Homo sapiens: one gene and its partners. The protein of the gene in region 3 interacts with the protein of the main gene of each other region in a pairwise test. Each region holds a gene or a part of one and is shown on either strand. Other genes may lie near its edges. The genes, in order: KIF9, ZNF76, SLAIN1, DMRTB1, AKAP9, EFHC1 and RFPL3.

Evidence for each region.
Region 1: the proteins of SLAIN1 (region 3) and KIF9 interact in binary tests that used the Homo sapiens proteins (3 or more experiments, as listed by UniProt).
Region 2: the proteins of SLAIN1 (region 3) and ZNF76 interact in binary tests that used the Homo sapiens proteins (3 or more experiments, as listed by UniProt).
Region 4: the proteins of SLAIN1 (region 3) and DMRTB1 interact in a two-hybrid assay, tested with the Homo sapiens proteins (2 studies listed by BioGRID).
Region 5: the proteins of SLAIN1 (region 3) and AKAP9 interact in a two-hybrid assay, tested with the Homo sapiens proteins (one large-scale study listed by BioGRID).
Region 6: the proteins of SLAIN1 (region 3) and EFHC1 interact in binary tests that used the Homo sapiens proteins (3 or more experiments, as listed by UniProt).
Region 7: the proteins of SLAIN1 (region 3) and RFPL3 interact in binary tests that used the Homo sapiens proteins (3 or more experiments, as listed by UniProt).

Annotation. Positions count from the first base shown.
Region 1 is NC_000003.12:47,276,300-47,279,799, reverse strand, and holds part of KIF9 (kinesin-like protein KIF9), read left to right. Parts: intron 1-2,420; coding exon of another isoform or gene 2,421-2,425; coding exon 2,426-2,518; intron 2,519-3,500. UniProt on the Homo sapiens protein: Essential for normal male fertility and for progressive motility of spermatozoa.
Region 2 is NC_000006.12:35,290,735-35,293,609, forward strand, and holds part of ZNF76 (zinc finger protein 76), read left to right. Parts: intron 1-543; coding exon 544-669; intron 670-823; coding exon 824-1,003; intron 1,004-1,805; coding exon of another isoform or gene 1,806-1,819; coding exon 1,820-2,053; intron 2,054-2,146; coding exon 2,147-2,310; intron 2,311-2,875. UniProt on the Homo sapiens protein: May be involved in transcriptional regulation.
Region 3 is NC_000013.11:77,704,187-77,707,686, reverse strand, and holds part of SLAIN1 (SLAIN motif-containing protein 1), read right to left. Parts: intron 1-3,500. UniProt on the Homo sapiens protein: Microtubule plus-end tracking protein that might be involved in the regulation of cytoplasmic microtubule dynamics, microtubule organization and microtubule elongation.
Region 4 is NC_000001.11:53,458,204-53,462,198, forward strand, and holds the start of DMRTB1 (doublesex- and mab-3-related transcription factor B1), read left to right. Parts: upstream 1-1,195; 5' UTR 1,196-1,250; coding exon 1,251-1,827; intron 1,828-3,269; coding exon 3,270-3,442; intron 3,443-3,995.
Region 5 is NC_000007.14:92,104,862-92,108,017, forward strand, and holds part of AKAP9 (A-kinase anchor protein 9), read left to right. Parts: intron 1-816; coding exon 817-902; intron 903-2,431; coding exon 2,432-2,561; intron 2,562-3,156. UniProt on the Homo sapiens protein: Scaffolding protein that assembles several protein kinases and phosphatases on the centrosome and Golgi apparatus. Required to maintain the integrity of the Golgi apparatus. Required for microtubule nucleation at the cis-side of the Golgi apparatus.
Region 6 is NC_000006.12:52,437,342-52,440,841, reverse strand, and holds part of EFHC1 (EF-hand domain-containing protein 1), read right to left. Parts: intron 2,539-3,500; coding exon 2,251-2,538; intron 1-2,250. UniProt on the Homo sapiens protein: Microtubule inner protein (MIP) part of the dynein-decorated doublet microtubules (DMTs) in cilia axoneme, which is required for motile cilia beating.
Region 7 is NC_000022.11:32,356,550-32,360,666, reverse strand, and holds the start of RFPL3 (ret finger protein-like 3), read right to left. Parts: upstream 2,801-4,117; 5' UTR 2,596-2,800; coding exon 2,223-2,595; intron 762-2,222; exon of another isoform or gene 416-761; coding exon 1-415.

The DNA of each region.
Region 1 (3,500 bases), on a different chromosome or scaffold from region 3:
TAAAAATACAGAAAAATTAGCGGGGCTTGGTGGCGGGCGCCTGTAGTCCCAGCTACTCGGGAGGCTGAGGCAGGAGAATGGCGTGAACCTGGGGGGCGGAGCTTGCAGTGAGCTGAGATGGCGCCACTGCGCTCCAACCTGGGTGATAGAGCGAGACTCTGCCTCAAAAAAAAAAAATAAAATAAAATAAAATATTACCATTATTTAATGTACTTTTTAAAAAAGCAAGATAATCTAATTAAAAGTAGTCCCTGTTATACATGAGGGGTTTTTATGGTTAACATCTTAAAAGTTACTTAGATTTTTTGATTTTTTTTTTTTTTTGAGACTGAGCTTGCTCTGTCACCCAGGCTGGAGTGCAGTGGCATGACATTGGCTCACTGCAACCTCCACCCTCCAGATTCAAGCAATTCTCCTGTCTCAGCCTCCTGAGTAGCTGAGATTACAGGCGCTTGCCACTACACCCAGCTAATGTTTGTATTTTTTTTTAGTGGAAACAGGGTTTCGTCATGTTGGCCAGGCTGGTCTTGAACTCCTAACCTCAGGTAATCTGCCATCCTCAGCCTCCCAAAGTGCTGGGATTACAGGCAAGAGCCAACGCACTTGGCCCACGTTAGTTTTTTTTTTTTTTTTTTTTTTGAGATATGGTCTCACTCTGTCACCTAGGCTGGAGTGCAGTGGTATGATCAAAGCTAACTGCAGCCTCAGCTTCCCCAGGCTCAAGTGATTCTCCCACCTCAGCCTCCTGAGTAGCTGGGACTATAGGCATGCACCACCATGCTTGGTAATTTATTTATTTTATTTATTTATTCATTTATTTATTTTTTGGAGATGGAGTCCCTCTCTGTCGCCCAGGCTGAAGTGCAATGGCGCGATCTCAGCTCACTGCACCCTCCACGTCCCAGATTCAAGCGATTCTCCTGCCTCAGCCTTCTGAGTAGCTGGGATTACAGGCGTCTGCCACCACAACTAGCTAATTTTTGTATTTTTAGTAGAGATGGCATTTCACCATGTTGGCCAGGCTGGTCTTGAACTCCTGACCTCAGGTAATCCACCTGCCTCGGCCTCCCAAAGTGCTGGGATTACAGGCCTGAGCCACCGCACCTGGCTGCCTGGCTAATTTTTGTATTCTTTATAGAGATGGGTTTTCGCCATGTTGCCCAGGCTGGTTTCAAACTCCTGGCCTCAAGGGATCTGCCCACCTCGGCCTCCCAAAGTGCTAAGATTATGGTATGAGCCATTGCACCCAGCCAAAAGTTAGTTTTTTTTTAAAGCCAAGCCATGCGCCTGTAGTCTTAGCTACTTGGAAGGTTGAGATGGGAGAATCACTTGAGCTCAGAAGTTAAAGGCTAGCCTAGACAACATAAAGAAACCCTTGTCTCCAAAAATAAAACAATGAAATAAATGTTAATTTTTTAAAAAATATTGAACATCGGCTGGGTATGCCTGTAATCCCAGCACTTTGGAAGTCTAAGATAGGAGGATCACTTGAGGCTAGGAGTTCAAGACCAGCCTAGGCAACATAGTAAGACGCCATCTCTGCAAAAAAAATGTAAGAAAACTAGCCGGGCACAGTGGTACGCACCTGTAGTCCCAGCTACTGGGGAGGCTGAGGCAGGAGGATCACTTAAGCCTGGGAGGTCAAGGCTGCATTGAGCCATGATAGCACCACTGCACTCCAACCTGGGTGACAGGGTGAGACTCTGTCTCAAAAAAAAAAAATGTATGTATATATGTCCTATGTCTTCCTTTATTTATACTACTATATATATGTATATGCACACGCATACACACACACACACACACTGAAAGAAAATGATGAGAATATAGTTAGGTTTTAGGAGAGCAAGAGGAGGTAGGGGACTGTCTGTGATATTTTTTCTCAATATAGTAAGAGAAGAAAGAATATTTATTATGGACCAAATATACGTCTGGGTCATCTATTTCTGATCTAGTTAGTCTACTGGAGAAGAGGATGCTGTATCTGAAGCAAGATAAGTTAATGAAAAGAAAATTAGTTTTAATGTATTTCATAGTAAGTATTTTAGAAGAAAATATAATAAATGAAGGAAAGCATAAGTGGACTCATCATCTTAGTTGCAGAACATTTCTAGAAATGACATCTAAGATTAGGCCACTAAAGGAAGCATTCTTTTCACTTTGTATTTCAGTCTCTCTGGGGTCATTGGTGGAAAATGGCAAAGCAGTCTGTGAAGCAGAAAGTGCGTGTATTTGTTGAGCAGTGTCTTGTGGGTAGAACACTGAAATGCTGAGGGGTGAAAAGGAAAACTGGCTTTCAGGGAGAGAGGGAAAAATGGACTGCTCGTCACTCTTTTCTGATCTTCTTAATGAATGACCCCTCTCCTCTACTTGTTATTTGATAATGACTACTCAAAATTTCATTGTTCCCTTCTTTTTAGCTAGAATGGGTACTAGGAAAAAAGTTCATGCATTTGTCCGTGTCAAACCCACCGATGACTTTGCTCATGAAATGATCAGATACGGAGATGACAAAAGAGTAAGTGCGATGTGTTTGCCTTCAACTGACTGGGCCTCTCTGTCCCACCTTGCTATAGTGTGACCGTATTTCCAAGCAACCTTTGAAGGACCAAGACAGAATTGGACAGGATCCAATGGACTCTAGAGCCCATCAAATCCAAACCACCCCCTCACACACTGCTAATGAAGAAATTAATAAAATCCCATCGTTAATTGTCTTTTAATAATTTTACCTTTAATAAATTAATAAGTTTACCTTTACCCTCGTATCTGACACAGAAGAATTGACATTTGTTCACATTCATAAAGCTTTCTAATGATTGATCTGTCATTGTATAATCGCCCATGGGGTGCAGTAAGAATATCTTGAGTTCATTACTGTTTAGCTTATCAAAACAGCTGGAGAAATACTTATCAAGAGAAGTGGAAAGATATATCCGTCCCTATATCCTCACCCTGAGAATGCTTCTGAAGGCTTAGGACAGTGTAAGAGTGTTAGATATTTTCATTCAGCAAACAATTATGGGCCTACTCTGGGCAGCATTGAGACATTCTTCAAAGGAAAAATTCAAGGGCAAACTGCCCAAGCCTCGCAGGTCCTAGCGGTCAGAAAAGAGCTCACATGCAGCCCTATCAAATGTGTCCTGCTGGACATGGTTTTCAGCGAACACAGAAGCACAGAGCATTTAATGTGTGAGTGGACCAAGTCTTTCTTTCTTTCTTTTCTTTTTTTTTTTTTTTTTTTGAGACAGAGTCCCACTCTGTTGCCCAGGCTGGAGTACAGTGGCACAATCTTGGCTCACTGCAACCTCCGCCTCCCAGGTTCAAGCGATCGTCCTGCCTCAGCCCTGCTAGTAGCTGGGATTACAGGCACGTGCCACCATGCCTGGCTAATTTTTGTATTTTTAGTAGAGACGGGGTTTTGCCATGTTGGCCAGGCTGGTCTGGAACTCCTGACCTCAGGTGATCTACCTGCCACGGCCTCCCAAAGTGCTGGGATT
Region 2 (2,875 bases), on a different chromosome or scaffold from region 3:
TGCTTCCAGTTGAGGGTGGAGGGTTCTCGTTCTGTTTGGGACCTCTCTGAAGGGAACCCAACACCAGGCTGCTTTCCTGGAGAAACTACCGTCAGAGTACTCTGACTTGCAGGGTGCTCTCTCTGGAGGAAACCTTGTTACGGGAGTGCAAGGCAGCATGGTTCAGGCCAGCAGAAGGAGCCTGGAGGGTTGGTGGAGAGACCCAGCCTCTTGTGTCAGCTCTGATGCCAACCAGCTGTGGATTATTGGGTGGGCCATTGCATCTCTCTGGGCTTATTTTCCCCTCTGTGAAACTAGTACCTTTAGCCATGAGTTCTCTAAGTTTCTTTTCATGCTCATGTTCTGGTATGGCTCCAACTGCTCCTGGAGAGGGAAGCAGGGCAGAGTGGGCTTTTCCAGCCCCTGCCCAGGGCAGGGGTGGGATAGAGGCAGACATGGGCTTCTTGAGCCAAAGGAGGTGGAGAGCCTGTGCATGAGGTGGACGGTGGAGGATGAGACCCCACTGGGTGCTCATCTCACCCCCTGCCTGCCACATATGGACAGGCTATGGACTGAAGAGCCACGTTCGTACCCACACTGGTGAGAAACCATACAAGTGCCCAGAGGAGCTGTGCAGCAAGGCCTTCAAGACCTCAGGAGACCTGCAGAAGCATGTCCGTACCCACACTGGTATGCTGGGCCCTGCCCACTCCAACCCCATTCCCTGGGCAAAAGGAATTCAGCTTGCCTTTCAGACTTAGACCTGGAGCCCAGTGCCATCCCCAGCTTGCTCCAGCATGGCCCTCTTTCCCACACCCCTCCTCACATCCCACCATTTGCATAGGTGAACGCCCGTTCCAGTGCCCTTTTGAGGGCTGTGGCCGCTCCTTCACCACATCTAACATCCGCAAGGTACATGTGCGCACCCACACAGGCGAGAGGCCCTACACCTGCCCGGAGCCCCACTGTGGCCGCGGCTTCACCAGCGCCACCAACTATAAGAATCACGTGCGCATCCACACAGGTGGGCTAGCTGGCATGCGAGGACTACCCTCACTCAGGCCCCAACCCCTCTACTGTAGGCTTCCCATCTAAGACACATTCCCAACTCCCAGCCCAGAACCCTTCTGTGCCAGCCATTCCAGGCTGGTCTGGGGGTAGGGTATCCCCAGAACAACTCTGCTTGCAGTGAGTAATTCCTCAATTTCCAGTTAGGTCCAATCTGAAAGGTATTGCCAGTCCTCTCTGGGGTCCCTCAGCTCCCTACCACCCCTCTACACCCACCCTGAGTTCTCCAACTCTGACTGAACTCTTGAAAAGAGGCCAGGGTCAGGAATGATGGGGAAGAAGCAGAGTGAACTGTCACCTTCAACTCCTCACCTTATCCGCCGTCCATGACTCCTGTGTATCCTCACCCTCCCCAGTGTTATGCCCCTCATCCAGCTTTCTGTGTTGTGTCTCAGCATGTGTGTCCCCTCTTTCCCATCACAACTGATACTTCAGTCATCCTTGCCTCTTGCCTCTGCTGTTCACCATTCTCAACCTCCCACCCTCAACCTTATAAGCCCCAGTGCCCCCTACCAGCCCCTTCACTAGCCCCAGCCTTGCCCTGTCCCCCGTTTCCTTTCCGCCTTGTCTCTGGATTCAGTGGTTCAACACCTGTGTCCTCTCTGTGTTCCACTGGCCATCTTCCCCAACCCTGTCCATTCAGAGTCTCAGGTCTCAGTCCCTCTCCCTCCCTCTGGCTCTCCCTTCACCAACCCTGTCCCTCACCCCTGTCCCCTTAGTTTCCCCCTTGCCAGCCCCAGTTCCCACCCCCCTCACAGCCCAGTGTCCCCAGGGGAGAAGCCATACGTTTGCACGGTGCCAGGCTGCGGGAAACGCTTCACCGAGTACTCGAGCTTGTATAAGCACCACGTGGTGCACACACACTGCAAGCCCTACACCTGCAGCACCTGCGGCAAGACCTACCGGCAGACCTCCACCTTGGCCATGCACAAGCGCAGTGCCCACGGCGAGCTGGAGGCCACGGAGGAGAGCGAGCAGGCCCTCTATGAGCAGCAGCAACTTGAGGGTAAGGGGAGTGGGCAGAGGGTGAGAGTGGGGACAAGCCAGGCCTCCCCATGGCATCTGGTAGCAGATGTCAGCCTTGGCTCTCCTCTCCCAGCCGCCTCTGCAGCCGAGGAGAGTCCGCCACCCAAACGACCCCGGATAGCTTACCTTTCGGAGGTGAAGGAAGAGAGAGATGACATCCCAGCCCAGGTGGCGATGGTGACTGAAGAAGATGGGGCCCCCCAGGTGGCTCTGATCACTCAGGATGGTGCCCAGCAGGTACAGGCCCTGGAGGGCAGAGGTGCCATACTAGCTGGCACTCTCCACTCTCTCTGGGGACTCTGGGAGCCCTGAAGTTCTGACAGCCCCACTGCCACCCAGCTTCTTGTTTAAGTTTTATAGACTTCAGAGGCTGAGGCTGAGGAGACCACATCTTGCAGCACAGCCTCTCCTCCTCCTGTGCTTCCAGCTCAGTCTCTGGGGCTTCTAGAGCACAGTTAGTAGTTTCTCTCTTTACTTGGAGGCTGACAGGTCCTGTTCATCTGAACAGGATATGGGATGTCCTTCTCAAGAGAGGCATGTTCATATAGCAGCCAGAACATGGTATGGGGTCTGAAAGCCTGGGGTCTGGTCCTACTAGTGTACTAGCTAGCTATATAACCTGACCCTTGTCCGTACCCTTGCTAGAAAGTACATCTGTGCTTTCTAGAGTTGTTAGGACACAATCAGGTGGCGACCCTGAGCTGGATACAACAGGGCCCAGAGGCAAAGTGGTGATAAATAGAAGTAGTCAGTGGAATTCTTCTAGTGTGGCCTCTCTTTGCAACCTTGGACCCATTTTGTT
Region 3 (3,500 bases):
TTATGCATAGAGAAAAAGATGAATCCAAGAGAAGACCTAGAGATGCTTGAATGTGGCCTGGCTACCCATCCAATCACTAGTAAACTGCACCAAGGAGCTCCATCCATTAAGAGCTTTAGATCGGCTTCGGCACCTCCTTTGGGTATGAACAGACAACCAGTGACACCAAATATGTGAAATATTCCTTTTACATGAAACACTGAGACTAAAAGTAGAGGGAGTAAAGAGAACCAAAGAGAAAAACAATGCAGGGAACAGATGAAAATGTCAAGACGAATATAATTTATATCATCTAAAAGAAAATGTTACATTCACACACACACACAAGCACACACATACACATGGATATTGAAAAAAACAGTTTATTCATGCTTGGGAAATGAAACTATCATAGCAAAAACAAAAGAGTCAGTAAATGAGTTTGGAATATCAAGTTGAAGAAGTCTCCTGAAAACAAAATAAAAACAGATTAGCAATGGGATAAGACAGATAAGAAAATCAAGTGATTAAGCCAGATGGAATGACCTACATCTGTCTGTTACAAGTTCTTAAAAAAAAGAAAGAAAGAAAAGAAAGAAACTGGAAAGTTATTTTGAAGAAAAAAAAAAGAGCAAGAAAATTTCCAGAGTGGAAGTCAGGCCATGCAATTCTAGAGTGAAAGTGTGCACGAATGTCCAGTATATTAAATAAAATAACCCATACCAAGGTACAACATGACATTTTAGAATACTAGGAATAAAGGAAGCAAAAGAAAAAGTCAAAAAGGATTAGATATCCAAACACAGTGCACTCAACAGCTAGAACATAACAGAAGCTAGAACAAAATGGAACAGTGCCTTCAAACATGAGGGAAAGGTTAACTTAGACTTTTATAGCCAGTCCAACTATGAATCTTATGTAAGGGCAGAACAATGACATTTTCAAATACGCAGGATCTCAAAGTGTGCCTCTCCTGCAGGTCTCCTTTCTCAGAAAGCTATTGAAGGCTGTGCCCCACCTAAGAGAATAAAAAAAATACAAACGAAAAGGATTTAAGAAGAAGGGAATCCACATTGCCAAGAAACTGAAAGAGTTCCCATGGCAACAGCAGTATGCATCCAGCTTAGGGGGCAAACAGTAAAAACTAGAGCAATGAGATTAAGAGTTTCAGAGGGGATAGCACTACAATATAAATTTTAAAAAAGCAGATTTAACAGACTGCCAAATGTGTATGACCTTAATGAGGGATTTTATGGCTCCTTTAGCGTGTTTGGGGAAATAATTTCTGATAGGTAATTAAAGAAAGTGAAGAGGAGAGAAGAAGTGCCATTACTAACTCTTGGAGGAACAAAGGGGTCAGAGAAAATACATGTTTAACATGCAATTAACAGGACTTAGCTAGTAAATTATAATCATAATGCAGACATTAAATATAAAAGAAAAACCATAAAAACCATTATGAGAAGGGAAAAGAGATATGGTAGTCAAGGGTGAGAGGAAGAGAGCTAAGTTTTCTTCTTTCATAATAAGTCCATAGATGTCTAAGATCATAAAAGTATAAAGACTGTTTAGGAAAAAGAAACAGCTAGTAGAGTATAAAGTGATGCCTATGTGAAGGACTCAGCAGGAGGAGGGAGTAGAGGACTGCTTCCTGTAATAAGCCTAACAAGGGGAGTTTTGAAAACTACTAACATGTTATTATATTATTTTGATAAAACTGTTGAGGTGCTATACAAATGTATGGCATTAAGACAGAAGTGATCATTTTCAGAGTCAGTCTCCTGACAGTGAGCAGGATAGCTTTGAGCCTAGTGTTTCTATGACTTGGCCTAGAGCTGGATTTAAAGAAAGAAAAAGCCCACAATAACCCTGAATGTTTCCAATGAAGTATGACAATTGTCTAGAAAAAAAAAGTCTCAGTTATTCTCAAAATATTTGGTTCTAAAGTCATCTTTTTGCAGATAATACAAAAAACTAGTTATAGAGATCATGTGGCTAAAAACTCCTTGAGTACAACACAGCTCCAAAATTAGATAGGCAAGGTTTTTAAAAAAAAAAAAAAATCTGTATTTCTCCTATATAGCTCTAACCCTCCAAAAAGTCATTTTAAAAATCACTTTATTCAATGTCATTAGAATGCAAGTAACATTTACAATGTCCTATCTGGCCATCATTAGTACATCATACATTCTAGTGACTTATAAACATTTTTTTCAACTTCAGTAGTTTCATTAATGGTATATTGGATTCTGGCAAGAGCATCTGAAAAGTCTTAATCTAAATTTTCAGAATTCTTCAAATTATATTTGAAATATACATTTCAAACTACTATTTGGAATGTCACTCTAATTTTCTTTAACTTTTCTTAAATTGCTTCCAAACCACACACACCAGAAACTACTATCCTTCTCATAGAACCCCTTCTTTTCCATACACATCACATTCTATGCTGGGAGAACAAAAATAATATAAAGCCCATGATAACCCTGAATGTTTCCAATGAAGTATGACAACTGTCTGGAAAACAAAGTCTCAGTTATTCTCAAAATATTTGGTTCTAAAGTCATCTTTTTGCAGATAATACAAAAAACAAATGGTACAGTCACATATGTATACACACAAGTATATATTTTATGTGTGTATATATACATATAAAACCTCTGTATATACAGTTTCTATGTATATATACATATAAAACCTCTGTATATACAGTTTCTATGTATATATACATATAAAACCTCTGTATATACAGTTTCTATGTATATATACATATAAAACCTCTGTATATACAGTTTCTATGTATATATACATATAAAACCTCTGTATATACAGTTTCTATGTATATATACATATAAAACCTCTGTATATACAGTTTCTATGTATATATACATATAAAACCTCTGTATATACAGTTTCTATGTATATATACATATAAAACCTCTGTATATACAGTTTCTATGTATATATACATATAAAACCTCTGTATATACAGTTTCTATGTATATATACATATAAAACCTCTGTATATACAGTTTCTATGTATATATACATATAAAACCTCTGTATATACAGTTTCTATGTATATATACATATAAAACCTCTGTATATACAGTTTCTATGTATATATACATATAAAACCTCTGTATATACAGTTTCTATGTATATATACATATAAAACCTCTGTATATACAGTTTCTATGTATATATACATATAAAACCTCTGTATATACAGTTTCTATGTATATATACATATAAAACCTCTGTATATACAGTTTCTATGTATATATACATATAAAACCTCTGTATATACAGTTTCTATGTATATATACATATAAAACCTCTGTATATACAGTTTCTATGTATATATACATATAAAACCTCTGTATATACAGTTTCTATGTATATATACATATAAAACCTATGTATATATTTTCTATATATATACATATAAAACATATGTACATATATTTTCTATGTATATATACATATAAAACATATGTATATATATTTTCTATGTATAT
Region 4 (3,995 bases), on a different chromosome or scaffold from region 3:
GGCCGGTGGATCACCTGAGATCGGGAGTTCAAGACCAGCCTGGCCAACATGGCGAAAACCCCGTCTCTACTAAAAATACAAAAATTAGCTGGGCATGGTGGCGGGCGCCTGTAATCCAAGCTACTCAGGAGGCTGAGGCAGGAGAATCGCTTGAACCTGGGAGGCGGAGGTTGCAGTGAGCCAAGATCCTGCCACTGCACTACAGCCTGGGTGACAAAGCAAGACTCTGTCTCAAAAAAAAAAAAAAAAACAAAAAAAAACAATTAATGCCCTCGGGTAAACTATGACGTTTGTGCTAACTTTTCAGATGTCCCAAGATTTGGGTTGTTTTACAAGGATAACGAAGTTCATGATGAGGTTAAGCAATCACTGAAGCTAGTGCTAGAAATTTTTTTTAATTTAATTTTTTAGAAAGAGGGGTCTTGCAGAATTTTTTATTTAATTTTTTAGAAAGAGGAGTCTCGCTATGTTGCTCAGGTTGGTCTCCAACTACTGGGCTCAAGTGATCCTCACGAGTAGCTAGGGCTACAGGCACAGGACACTATGCCAGGCTTAGTGCTACAATATTCTGTCTATTTTACTTTAAAATATTCTAAGTATGCTCACTTTGGAAGGCATCAACATCCAGAAATGCATTCCTACATCAAGACTCTCAAGAAACGGGAATTACTGTAAGGGCATACCCTTGAGCAACCATCACACTGCACTGAACTCTTGAGAATATTCTGGAATATCCTGGAAGCATCTCTGCAGGGCAGAGAAGTGAACTGCCACAGAAGGAGCAGCTTTGGGGAGAAGAAATACAGTTTGCCTCTTACAGTATTTTTCTACACCGAGAGCTACATTCCTCCCGAGTTTTAAATTTGTGGACCGTTGAATATCACTCCGCCTTTCATAAAGTTACAAATACCTTCCGTCGGTGGCGGGAACAGAGTTTGGAAAATTACATGCCTAAGACTTCAGATAAGCTAAATGACATACATGCAATAGCATCCCATGAAGAATTTATTCAACCCAATCCATTGCATCTAATTACCCAAAGCACAGAAACTCTCCAAACTGTGCACCCCCCAAAAGGAGGGAAAATGCAAGGTTCCTGCTGCAGTTCCCGGGACACACTGCGAGCCGCTTTGTTACAAGTGTATCCAATGTCCCCAGAACGAGGGACTTGTGGGGCGCGGCTCATCCCAGCGCCACTTGCTCTGCAGCTCCCAGAGGTGGTGGTTGTGTTACGAAGGCTGACCCTGCCAATGGCCGACAAAATGGTGCGCACCCCCAAGTGCTCGAGATGCAGGAACCATGGCTTCCTGGTGCCCGTCAAGGGACACGCGGGCAAATGCCGCTGGAAGCAGTGCCTCTGCGAGAAGTGCTACCTGATCTCCGAGCGCCAGAAGATCATGGCCGCGCAGAAGGTGCTCAAGACGCAGGCCGCCGAGGAGGAGCAGGAGGCGGCCCTGTGTGCGCAGGGGCCCAAGCAGGCCTCCGGGGCTGCGGCCGCCGCCCCCGCCCCCGTCCCCGTCCCGGCCGCGAGCCTCCGCCCGCTGTCCCCGGGGACTCCCTCCGGAGACGCCGACCCGGGACCCGAGGGCCGCGCGGCCGCTTGCTTCTTCGAGCAGCCCCCGCGGGGCCGGAACCCCGGCCCGAGAGCCCTCCAGCCGGTTCTGGGCGGCCGCAGCCACGTGGAGCCGAGCGAGCGAGCCGCCGTGGCGATGCCCAGCCTTGCGGGACCCCCTTTTGGGGCGGAGGCCGCAGGCAGTGGCTACCCTGGCCCCCTAGACCTGCGCAGGCCGATGCGGACCGTGCCCGGCCCACTGTTCACCGACTTTGGTAAGTCGTGGCCTTGGTCCCGCGGTCGACTCCCGGAGCTGGCAGCCCAGGCCAGCCCGGATGGGGAGCTGGCATAGGGGTTCGGGGTGGAGAGAAGTTTTTCCACGGGTAACGGACCTTCCGCTTTGAGAAACCCTTCTTCGAACAGGGATTTGGATTGGGTAACTTTTCGCAAAAAGGAAACGAGAAACAGAAAGGAATGGGCGGTTCAGAGGGCTTTTAACATTTAGCTGTAGTTTGTGCCATTCCGGCATGCAAGAACAAAATGGCGTCCAGTCGACTTAGCAGTGCTTCCTCCTCCGGGGGAGGCTTCGAGGAGCCGAGTCCTACTGCTCTTGCGCACCTCTTCCCGCCATTTCCTTGGGCTGGAGGCTCCTCCTCCAGAATAACAGAATTTTCCTGCCGGCACGTTAGCGCAAGGACGCCTGCGCACTCTTCCCTCCCGGTTCGCGGTCGGGAGGCTCCTCCCCTCAGCTCCGCCCTGGCCCAGTGCGCCTGCGCACCTCTTCCCTCCGTTTCCCCACGTGCAGGTGAGGGGAGCCTGCTTCTTTACTCCACACACGAGAACAGTTGGTCAGTAAAGATGTTGCCTTTCTTTTCTCCCTTCACCTTGTACATAAATTACATTGTTCCCTGTGCCTTGGAGCTTTTGGTATTGAAGTAGTTTCAAGTCACATGTACATTTGAAGCTTTAGAAGCCCCGGGGTTTGGTGCGGACGCGTTTTCCTGGTGTCTCCCCCGTGGTGGTGTGGTGGGACGGGCTCAGGCCGAGGCGGGGGCCCGGGTCACGCTGGACAAGCTCCTGCCCTCTGTGTGCCAGGGCACTGGTCCGGAGGCTCCCGCAGGCTCGTCCCGCCCCCCTGACTTTCCAGGAAAATCTAGGTCCCCAGGGAACGTCCCATCTGACAGGGTCACAGGCCTGAAACTGCAGATCTAGGAGAAGCCACCTTTCTTTTTTCCATCTCAACAGACAAGCAGGGCTGAGCCGAACCATGAGCCAGGCATTCGTGATGGAGGACGCGGGTCACATTTCTTGCCCTCAAGGACCTTGTCCTTGTGGGAGGGACAGGGTTGATCAAAGAGTCACACAAATCAGTGTCCAGGGCTTGAGCCATGGCCGGGTTCACTGTGACCCGGAGGAGGAGGAGGAGCTCGGCACTGAGGCCTCAGAGAGGCAGAGTGCGGGCTGACGGTGTGTGGGGCAGCGGGGAGGTCTGGAGGCGGCCCCGGCCCACAGCGGGCTTGATGGCCGTGCTGAGGACTTTCCAAGAGCAGTGGGGCTGGCTGGAGGATGGAGATGCAGTGAGGGCCCAGCGGAAGGAAGTGCGGGGTGGGCTTTCTGTGCTTGGACGGCAGCGCTGATGACCCCGCCGCCCTGGGCCGCCCTGCGGATGCTTTTCCCAGCGGTGTCTAACACTTCCCTCCTTGCTTGCGTTCTTTAGTGCGCCCTCTGAACATCAACCCGGACCGTGCACTGGGCCCTGAGTACCCTGGTGGCTCCAGCATGCACCCCTACTGCCCGTTCCCGCTGGGCTACCTGGACGCCCCTCCTGGCGTCCCCCTGCAGCAGGGCTTCCGGCATGTGTCCCGCAGCCAGTACCAAGGCGGAGGCTTGGTGAGTCCCACCCCTCACTTCTTGCCAGCTTCCTCCACCCAGTCTGCCCCTGCTGCCTTGATGGATCCTCAGTCCCAGGAAGCCAGCTGTCATAAACTGTGCCCACGCCATGCCAGCCCCCGAGTGCTGGTGGAGGACTAGGCACTGCCCAGGCACAGTGTGTGTGTCTCTGGGAGCACACGTGTGGACCAGTCTGCACCACTCGGCTTGGGCTATGGCCTGTGCTTTTCAGGGCAGTGGGCTGAAAGGCTCTGAGCGTTCAGGATGACCCCTTCCTTGACTGATGCTGATGCTAGAAGGGCCCTTCATTTTGCTGGACTCCAGAAAGGGCATATCACCTTCCTGGGACCACAAAATTTAGGGCAGAGCCAGGACCAGAGGTAGGCTCCCTGCCCACAGGTATAGCACACTTGAGACTGCAGAGGGCTTTCAGGAGGAGGTGGCATTTGAGCGGAGTCATGAAAAATACGGAAACCTTCCCCCAAACACTTGACACCTTAGGAAATACCTGTTGAAAGAATGAAATTTAATCCTTTTATAAGATTAATAAAGG
Region 5 (3,156 bases), on a different chromosome or scaffold from region 3:
CAGCTCACTTTCTAGTGGGGAAGACTAATATGCACAGAACTTAGAATATAATAAGTAAATGGGAGGTCACAGGAGTTAGCTAGTAATTTTGATTAGAGGGATCTAGAGAGGCTTCATGAGAGCGGTGTAGAAGTTGTTATTGACATACTTCACTCTGCCCCACTTTTTCTTATCCAAGATTATGTTTATCATATTTTGACCCTCCTAAGATGGAGCCTTGGAACTGATTCAAAGTAAATCAAAACTGGTGCTCCAAAAGCTCCTTGGGCCAAGATGGGGAAGAAGGTCGTAACTTGCTGCACCTGGGTCATGAAGCTAACACTCCCATTCCTTTTGAAACCAACGTTTTTTTGTCCCTGATCAAAGGGACAAGAGCTTCACCCACCTTGCAGCATTCCCAGCACATTCTTATTGCCAATTTAAGGGTCTTTTTGTTCTCTTCTTATCTCATCTGCCCTTTATTCTCTGTTCTTTTCTCTTTTCATTACTTCTCACCCTTTCTTTGCCTATCTGCTTTTCCCATCTACTTTTGCCTTCCATCTCCTTATACCCCATTTATCCCTCAAGCTGGAACCTGATGCTGGCAATATAAGAGACCTCTAATGCCTCTTGGGAAGGGGATGAGGGGATTTTGAGTCCCTATTCTTCCGTTCCAGTTGATTTTGTCACAACAGGCATTGACATAGTTTAACTGGGCAATTGTGAAATTTGACATTTGTTCTATGTTCATATTTAAACGTGTGATGTGATTTTTGTAGGAAATGTATATACTGTTTATAGATGGGCTGTGAAATTTTATCTTGGAATCTTTTTTAGAATGAAATTTTTGGTTCGACGGTGGCATCGAGTCACAGGTTCTGTTTCCATCAATATTAACAGAGATGGCTTTGGACTGAATCAAGGTGAAGTCAAAATAGCATATTTTCTTATGTTTATGACTCTCTAAATCAGAGGTCCCCCACCCCCAGACTATGGACCATACTTGTCTGTGGCCTGTTAGGAACCAGGCCGCACAGCAGCAGGTGAGCAGCGGGCATTACTGCCCGAGCTCCACCTCCTGTCAGATCAGCCGTGGCATTAGATTCTCATAGGAGCACAAATCCTATTGTGAACTGCACATGTGAGGAATCTAGGTTGTGTGCTCCTTATGAGAATCTAACTAATGCCTGATTATCTGGGGTGGAACAGTTTCATCCAGAAACCATTCTGGCCCCTTTGGGTCCATGGAAAAATTGTCTTCCATGAAATGTGTCCCTGGTGCCAAAAAGGTTGGGGACTGCTGCTCTGAATTACTGCATGTGTAATACTTACCAAGTAATGAATTCTGGAAGCAATGTTTTCCAAAGACAAAGCCCTTATAACTGCCAAAACTAGGTAACTTCACTGTTTTAAAGAGGGTAATAATAACTGATTTTCATGGAGAACTTAGTCTGCACCTGGCCATGCTCTTTTCATGTATTCTCCCAATCCTATGATATAAGTACAGTTTTACTACTCTCACTTTTAGATGAAAAATCGAGGCATGGAAAACACAAGTCATTTGCCCCAGAATGGCCAGTAGGGAAGTGATGGAACCAGGACCAAACACTGGCAGTCTGGGTCCAGAGCCCACACTCTTCATAACTGCATTTAAGGCACGGTTCAAGACAGGATTGCTGTTAGTCATATGGAAGAATTAGGAAGTTTTCATAATTTAACAATATTCAAACAAGTTTCTGAGTTTACCAACAGGTTGTATAATAATGGTAACAGCTAAAATTCCTTCTGTCTACACCTAGAAGTGGAAACAAACTAGGGCTTGAACATTTCTGGCAATAAAGATGAGGTCCGAATCTGGGGAGCACACAGAGGACACAGCATCCCTGTGCTGTGTATTCATAGTAAACCACCTTTACATACTCTACCAGGAGCTGAGCATCCTACAGAGGGGAAATAGATTTGGTACCCTACACAAAGTATTTTGAAATATCATTACACTGAAACAGCTGAAATTTGTACCATAATAAGTTGTGTTTTATTAAAAGTTAGCAAATCTTGGTTTCAAGTCAGTAGATTGGAATGGTTACATTGGTCTAATATTTTTTATCCACATCATTTCCCACAAGCCACACCCACTCAGACACCCCTCACCTCTCATCTACTTAGAGCTAAGGTCTTTAAAGAAGAAAATATGCCAATTAAATAATTTTCTTTGAGACATAATTCCAGATATCAGAAATACTCATATTCAAAAGTAAACAAAATAACATTTGAAAGCCGAATTTTTGTTTGTACTGTTTTCTCCTTTATCAAGAATAATAGAAAATGACTATAAATAGGAGATTGTATAATATAGTATAATAGTCTTTTGAGCAGTTACCTATTTTGTAGAAATTTTTTAAGGTCTTGGGATTTTATTTTTCTTTACAAGGAATATTTTGGGTTACTTTAGGTGCAGAAAAGACTGACTCATTTTATCATTCTTCTGGTGGGCTGGAGTTATATGGAGAACCAAGACATACTACGTATCGCTCAAGATCAGATCTGGACTATATTAGGTCCCCTTTACCATTTCAGAATAGGTAAGAATATGAGAAAACCTGCCTGGAATTGTTAAATGTATTAATATTTAACAGAGATAAATGGACATTTTTAGGGCTTTGACTTCTTTGCATTGAGATAGACATCTTTGTTATATATAATTTACATAATATGACCAAGTGCGGTGGCTCACACCTATAATCCCAGCACTTTGGGAGGCTGAGGCGGGCAGATCATGAGGTCAGGAGTTCAAGACCAGCTAGTTGGAGACTAGCCTGGCCAACATGGTGAAACCCTGTCTCTACTAAAAATACAAAAAATTAGCCAGGCGTGGTGGCAGGCGCCTGTGGTCCCAGCTACTTGGGAGGCTGAGGCAGGAGAATGGTGTGAACCCGGGAGGCGGAGCTGGCAGTGAGCTGAGATTGTGCCACTGCACTCTGGCCTGGGCAACGGAGCGAGACTCTGTCTCAAAAAAAAATACAAAAAAATTAGCCAGGCATGGTGGTGGGTGCCTGTAATCCCAGCTACTCAGGAGGCTGAGGCAGGAGAATCGCTTGAACTCAGGAGGTGGAGGTTGCAGTGAGCCGAGGTCACGCCACTGCACTCTAGCCTGGGCAACAAAGCAAGATTTGGTCT
Region 6 (3,500 bases), on a different chromosome or scaffold from region 3:
CTCACACCAGTCAGAATGGCTATTATTAAAAAGTAAAAAAATAACAGGTGCTGTCAAGGTTGTGGAGAAAAAGAAATGTTTATACACTGGTGATGAGAGTATAAATTAGTTCAACCATTGTAGAAAGCAGTGTAGTGATTCCTAAAAGACCTGAAAACAGAACTACCATTTGACCTAGGAATCTCATTATTGGGTATATACCCAAAGGAATATAAATCATTCTGCCATAAAGACATACCCGCAAGTATGTTCATCGCAGCACTATTCATAATAGCAAAGACATGGAATCAACCTGAATGCCCATCAATGGTAAACTGGAAAAAGAAAATGTGATACATATACACATACATATACATATACATGAAGGTGCCAGATTTTTTGCATTTTTGTGTTTTTTGTTGGTGATTTTGCTGTTTAAAGGGTCCCAGTGCCTAGTGATGAAGTGCTATTTAGTGTTCCTAAGCACAAGAAGGCTGTAACACACCTCATGGAGAAAATGCATGTCTTAGATAAGCTTTGTTCAGACGTGAGTTATAGTGCTGTTGGGTGTGAGTTTAATGTTAATGAATCAACCGTATATATTAAATAAGGTGTCTTTAAACAGAAACATACATGAATCAAACTTATGTATTGATCAGTTGACAAAAATGTGGCCAGAGATTAGTGGGAACCTAACCCTGTATTTCCTCTAAGACTAGTGGTTCAGTATTCACTAATTCAGTGTTTGTGGTGACTTTATAGTCCTAATTACTGTCAATAATGAGAACCGACTATAAATAGATTAGGTCAAACGCTCAGTGATTAACTTGCAAATGTTCAAATTGCCCATAAAAACACAACTGTAAAAATAATTGTTATGAAAACACAACTGTAAAAATAATTGTTAATACATTTATGTTTAGATAACATTTTATCATTTCTCACTGTTGGTACAATTGTGAAACTGCCTATGATATATAAGACCTCAGACACCTAAAAAGCAAAGAGATAAAAATATGTTGGAACGGGAGAATATCTCAAAGATGGTCTAGCACCTCTACTTTTGAAGCTATTTTTCTCTATTGCTTTGGAATGGCACTGATGCCATGGCTCCTTTCTTTACTTCCTTCAGGCCTCTATTCATATGTCATCTTATCACTGAGGCATTCTCTGATCCGCCTCTATAAAGAGCCCCTCAACTTCCATTCCCTTTACTCAGCTTTATTTTCCTCCATTGCTGTTATCATCATCTGACATATAACCAATCTATTTATTTGCTATTGCTTATCTCCTCCAACAAGATTGGAACCTCTATAGGGGCAAGTACCTATAACATGCAAGGAAAGGAGAAATGGTGCACTATTAGCTTGTCATAGTCATCTGAAAAATATCAAGTACCTTCCTGAAAACATCTGGCACCTAGAACAGTGCATGGAACAAAGCAGGCATGCAAATAAATATCTGTTAAACAAACTACTAAATGAAAACAATAATGGATTCATAGGAGCTCAGTGCATGGTAAAAATTAGTCACATATGGCACTAGGTATCCTGGAATAGGGACATAAAATACTTCAGAAACTATATCTTTGCTGCTAGAAATATTTTTTTAACTAAGACAAATTTGGAATTGACTTCCTAATTCCTACACTTTGTAGTAAAGAAAGGCCACCTATATCCTCTATGCATGTAACTTTAATAAAAGTTTCCTTTGTATTAAAAAATCCAAACTTACGAAATAGAGGACTTTTTACATATAGAAGAGGTTTTTTCATTTAAAAATGGTTTCATTTCAGAAATTCTTTAGATGGTAAGCTTTCCTAGAATATAGCAAGTATCATTTACCAAAAATATATGAGCTACACAAAAAATTTTAGGCTCATATCTGCTAATAGAAGTAGTGCTATTTTTGTAAACTCACACTTAAGATAAAACGTTTAATCCCTCTTCCATACTTACATCCCAGCAGGGATGCTATTCCCCTACTCCCTGTTTGAACTGCCATTTTAACCTGGTTTCTTACCAAATTATTCAGCTATGATGAGAGTTTGATTTTGAGTGAATAAGTATTAATATCATTCTGAAAAAATTATGTTACTATTAGTGTTGGCACATATTAGCACATACACACATGCAAATACCTAGCCATTCATAATAATTCATGCAGGACAGATTACCAATGTCCTCCCCTTACCCTAATAAATGAAATGTATCCTTCTATAAATTAGAATGATGCCTCAGACCCCACAACTTTCAAAAATATATGCTATACCTGTGTGAATTGGTCACAGTCAACAACGCGGAAAGTTTTGCCATAAATTGTGATGTTTATTCCTCGATTTAGGTCTTTCCAATGGTAATGGTCACCCCGGTCATTCTTGGCTAGCCGCTGGCGTTTTATTAACTTGCCTTGAAGGATTCCAGAATTTTCTACAACAGGCTCTATGACAGACATGCTGTCATCTTCTAGATAATAGTAAATGTTCACCTGACGGATCCTATACTGTTCCTCAGTTGACATAGGAACATCTTCTTGGAAATAGGCATCAAATTTCAGTACCTATAACATACAAGGAAAGGAGAAATGGTGTACTATTAGCTTGTCATAGTCATCTGAAAAATATCAAGTACCTTCCTGAAAACAGAACCACACAGGGAGATTTTAACACTCATCACTTCTATCCTGTAAATCTTGATACTCTAAAACTACAGATACTGCAAACTATAGTCCATGGGACAAATCTAACCTGCCACCTGTTTTTTTTATGACCTGCAAGCTAAGAGTGGGTTTTACATATTTAAATGGTTTAAAAAATTTTAAAAAATGTTTCATAACACATGGAAATTATAAAAATTTAAATTTTCAATCCACAAATAATTATGTAAATAATTTACGCTTTTTTGTTAACAGCTGCTCTCCCATTACAAGGGAAGAGTTGAATAGTTGTGACAGAGATACACAGACTAAATTGTGTCCCCCTCATCCCCAAAATTCATATGTTGAACCCCTAACCCTCAATGTGACTATATTTGGAGACAGGATCCTTAGGAGGTAATTAAGGTTAAACCAGATCTTAAGGATAGAGGTATGCCACCTTTAAGTCTAATCCCATAGAACTGGTTGCCTTAGAAGAGAAGAAGAGAAAGAGAGTTACTTCCCTCCCCTAACTCCCACATGTACACACCAAGGTAAGGCCACATGAAGACATAGCAAGAAGACCGCTGTATGCAAGCCAGGAAGAGAGCCCTCACCAGAATTCAAACCAGCTGGCACCTTGATCTTGGACCTCCAACCTCCAGAACTGTGAGAAAATAAATTCTATTATTTAAACCACTCAATCTGTGGTATTTTGTTGTGGCAGACTACGCAGGCTAAAACCACTGCAATGGCCAAAATATACGCTAACTGCCCTTTACAGAAAAAGTTTGCTGACATCTGCTTTAAATACTCACAATGTGTATAAACTATTTATTGCATATGTTCCTTGGTGAGAATACATCTTAAAGGACTTAACTCTACTA
Region 7 (4,117 bases), on a different chromosome or scaffold from region 3:
CTTTCAGCATCAAAAAAGGAAACGTTCTGCATGCCCATATCCAGAAAAATCCCCACTCGCTGTAACTTGCGGTCTACTAAGAGGAAAGTCAGCGGCACCGTGCTGGCAGAGAGGCGGCTTCCATCCCTCAAACTCACAGTCCAGAATCCAAGCTCTGTGGTCAGCTGGATCTTCCCTTTGCAGTGAACAGATTCTCTGCAGACTCCCAGGTCCCATTCTGTGCTTGTTCCCACGTCCACCTCCCAGTAGTGGCGGCCACAGGTAAAGCGAGGGGAGCCCAGGATGCAAACGGACACGTCAAATCTCTCGGCAAGGTCTTGCCGATTCTGTGTGATGAGCCCACTTCGGACGCTCCTGAGGTCGTCAGAAATGAGGAGGAAGTTGTTGGCTGTGTCGGCATCCAAGGTCATATCCACTGTGAAAAGGAAAACAAGTTGCTCAGCAAGTGGACAGAAGCCAACCCCATGCCTCTCTTCTACTTCAAAGGCCCAAATATCTCCTGACTTTAGTTTCTTTAATTCTGTTTCTTCCTCCAAAATCAAAACTTTTCATGAGGAAACTTCCCTATTTCAAATTTTCATAGGTATGCTTTGTGGCAATACGTGACTCTTATTCACAGTAGCAATTCTTATTTTACTTTACGTCACGTGTTTGCTTCACTGAACTTTTCTTCATTTAGAGTGGAGGGTCTCTGAAGGCAGACACCATGCCCCCCTTTCTACCACCTTGATGTGTGAACAAATAAATGATAATTAAGACAATGCAAGTGGTCAATATTAAATATGTTTCTGCTTCCACATTTTATTGCTCCAATTCAGTATATAGAGCATGATTCCAGGCTTTTGTTTTCCATGTTTGTAAACAAATTAATTGTGCACAGTTCTGACAGCAGATAGGGTATCTCTGCAGCTGACAATGTGATGACAGAGATGCTGGTCCTGGACATTAGGAGGCTCTAAGGCCAGGTGGAGGAGGGGGACCTTTTAGATGAAAGAATGTTTTCTATCCTACATGGAAGGTGAGACCTTAAGCAAAACAATGGTAAATTTTGGAGCCAAGAGAAAGGTATTTGAAAGTTGTCTGTCATAACTGACTGATTGTAGAGAATAAGGGCAGAAAATACAAAGGTCAATAATTTAAGGCATTGGGTATGTGACTGACAGGTGAAGCCGCCAATTCTCATGGAGGAGGCAGTGTGATCTGGCCTAGAGAAAATTAATTGTCCAGAACATTCTGAAAAAAAAAAATCTACAAAATATATTATCCTTCAAGTCAAAAAACTGATATGATCACTAATATAGATTTTATAGATCACAGTAAGACTACCCTAGTCAAGACTAGGGATTGATTGCTATTTAATGGTGAATTAGGGAATGGACATGGACAAGGAAGGAGGAAGAGGGTTCCAAACATGACTTGGACAGGGTGAATCTCTGTCCTCCATAGTTCAGCAGAGAGACAGTCAGGTATGGGTAGATGGATGAGTAGAGATCATGGGTGTCAGGGCAGAAGCTACCAGTGTCAGGGACATTATAGGGGCCCACCACCATTTATAGGTGTAATTCTTTGCCCAGGCTGACCATAACCTTTTCATTTAAATGTCCCTTTTCCCCAGAGTTATGGAGAGTGATAGTATTTTCTGTAGCCAGGACCACTGTTGGAGCCCATGGCGCATGGATGAGGAGACCAATATCTGCAACTCTCCCCACTCACAGAAACAAACACCATAGGTGCTCCATTCCCAACTCTTCTCAACCCTGGGGTGAGGTTGTTTGGTACAATGGGTGCCAATATTCACTGTGCATTAGAAATACCAGGCCCATCTTAATGTCAGATTCATGGGAACCTTTGCTAGAGAGAAATTCAAATTCAGTTGCTCTATGTTTTTGCTACTCAGCAAAGTCCCCAAGCCAGCGGGATCAATCCTGAGACTTCCCAGTTCAGCATCTGCATTTTAACAAGATCCCCAGGTAATCTGAGCACACTAAGTTTAGAGAATCCCTTGTCTAACCCATGACATAGACATCGGGTTTTTGTTTGTTTTTGTTTTTGACATCACCAGGTGATTCTATGTGTTGTCAGGGCTGAGAATGTGATGATGAAGCATCTCAATTTTAGGTGCCAGACAGCAGCTAATCCCCATGTGGAATGAGGGGCCAACTGCACAGATGATTTTTCCTGGTCTGGTCTTGGGAAGGGGGCAGGGTATACAGATTCCTTACCTTGGAACTTCCGCATCCTTGGGTTCATCTGTAGAATCTTCTTCAGCTTGGGCTCCAGTTCCTTGATGTGGGAAACCAGCCTCTCTAGCTGCCGATTGGGCCTGATTTTGTTCCTCTGAGAGACCATGGAACAGCAACAGCAAAGCAGATCCTCCCCATGGGGCTCCTTCTGCAGCGAATTGATGCACTTGAGGCAGACGGTGCATCCACACTCCAGGGACATTGGTTTTTCCAGATAGTCTGAGCAGACGGGACAGCTGCTTGCTTCTTGGAAGAGTGCAGCCATGTCCACTGCCAGGGGAAAAGTACACAAGGGAAGAAAATTTCCTTGAGGTGAAAGCCTGTTAGTTGTGACAAGTGACAACCTTTTCATGCATAGAGGTATTGTGTTCCAGCTTTGTCACTCCGAGAACAAGACCATGAGTACAAACACTCAAGCACATCCCCCCACCCCCCGTCCTCAGAGATTTGAAGTTCTATTGGGAAAGTCACGAATCATCACTGTGCTCTGAGCTGAGGTGGAGGAAGGGTCCATTCTCCTGGTGACCCAGCAGCTGAGCCTGAGCCAGTGACGTGGCAGCACCCATGTGAGGAACAGCGAGCTGGGGTCATTTCACCACCTCCTAGGGGAACCCCAGCAAGAGACTGATTGATGAACATAAGAATTAGGAGCTGAGAGGCTGGGCACGATGGCTCATGCCTGTAATCCCAGCACTTCGGGAGGCCAAGGTGGGTGGATCATCTGAGGTCATCAAAAGTTCGAGACCAGCCTGATGGGTGAAACCCCATCTCTACTGAAAATACAAAAGAATTAGCCAGGCGTGGTGGCACACGCCTGTAATCCCAGATACTTGGGAGGCTTTGGCAGGAGAATCGCTTGAACCTGGGAGGCAGAAGTTGCACTGAGCCAAGATTGTGCCATTGCACTCCGGCCTGGGCAACAGAGTGAGACACCATCTCAAAAAAAAAAAAGGGGGCTGGATGCAGTAGCTCACATCTGTAATCCCAGCACTTTGCGAGGCCAAGGCAGGAAGATCCCTTGAGCCCAGGAATTTGAGACGAGTCTGGACAACACAGGAAGACCTCATCTCTACAAACAATACAAAAATTAGCAGTGAGCAGAGACCACGCCAGGTCACTCCAACCTGGACAACACAGTAAGACCCTGTCTCACCAAAAGAAAAGAAAAGAAAAAAAATTACATCCTTCTCCAGCCTTGGAAATGAATACCAAATTAACTGCCACCACTGGTGGGCAGGGGACAGGCTCGGAGGTTCCCTGAATGACAGAGAGTTGTTTTAGGAACCTCATGTCACACCCTTCTGAGACACTGTGGACCATGTCTGAGGGGTCCTACACTGGCACTGAGGGGGCCTGACCCCTCTTCATACACTGAGGTCAGGGGGCTCCCAGGTACACAACAGGATGCTGACCTCCTGCCGCTCGCCCACCCACAGGCCAGCCCAAGGCCACCCCCTTGGTCACTCTGTTCCCGTCCTCCTCTGAGGAGCTCCAAGCCAAAAGGCCACACTGCTGTGTCTCATGAGTGGCTTCTACCCGGGAGCTGTGACGGTGGCCTGGAAGGCAAACAGCACCCCTGTCACCCAGGGTACGGAAGTCACCAAGACCTCCAAACAGAGCAACAAGCACACAGCCAGAAGCGACCTGAGCCTGACACCCGACCAGTGGAGGTCCTGCAGCAGCTACAGCTGTAAGGTCACACACAAGAGAGCACTGTGGAGAAGACAGTGGCCCCTGAAGAATGTTCTTAGGTCCCTGACCCTCACCCCACCCATGGGGGCCTGGAGCTGCAGGATCCCAGAACAGAGATCCCCTCCCACCCCAAATCATCCAGCCCCTCTCCTTGTACCAGTAAACCCTTAATAAATATCCTC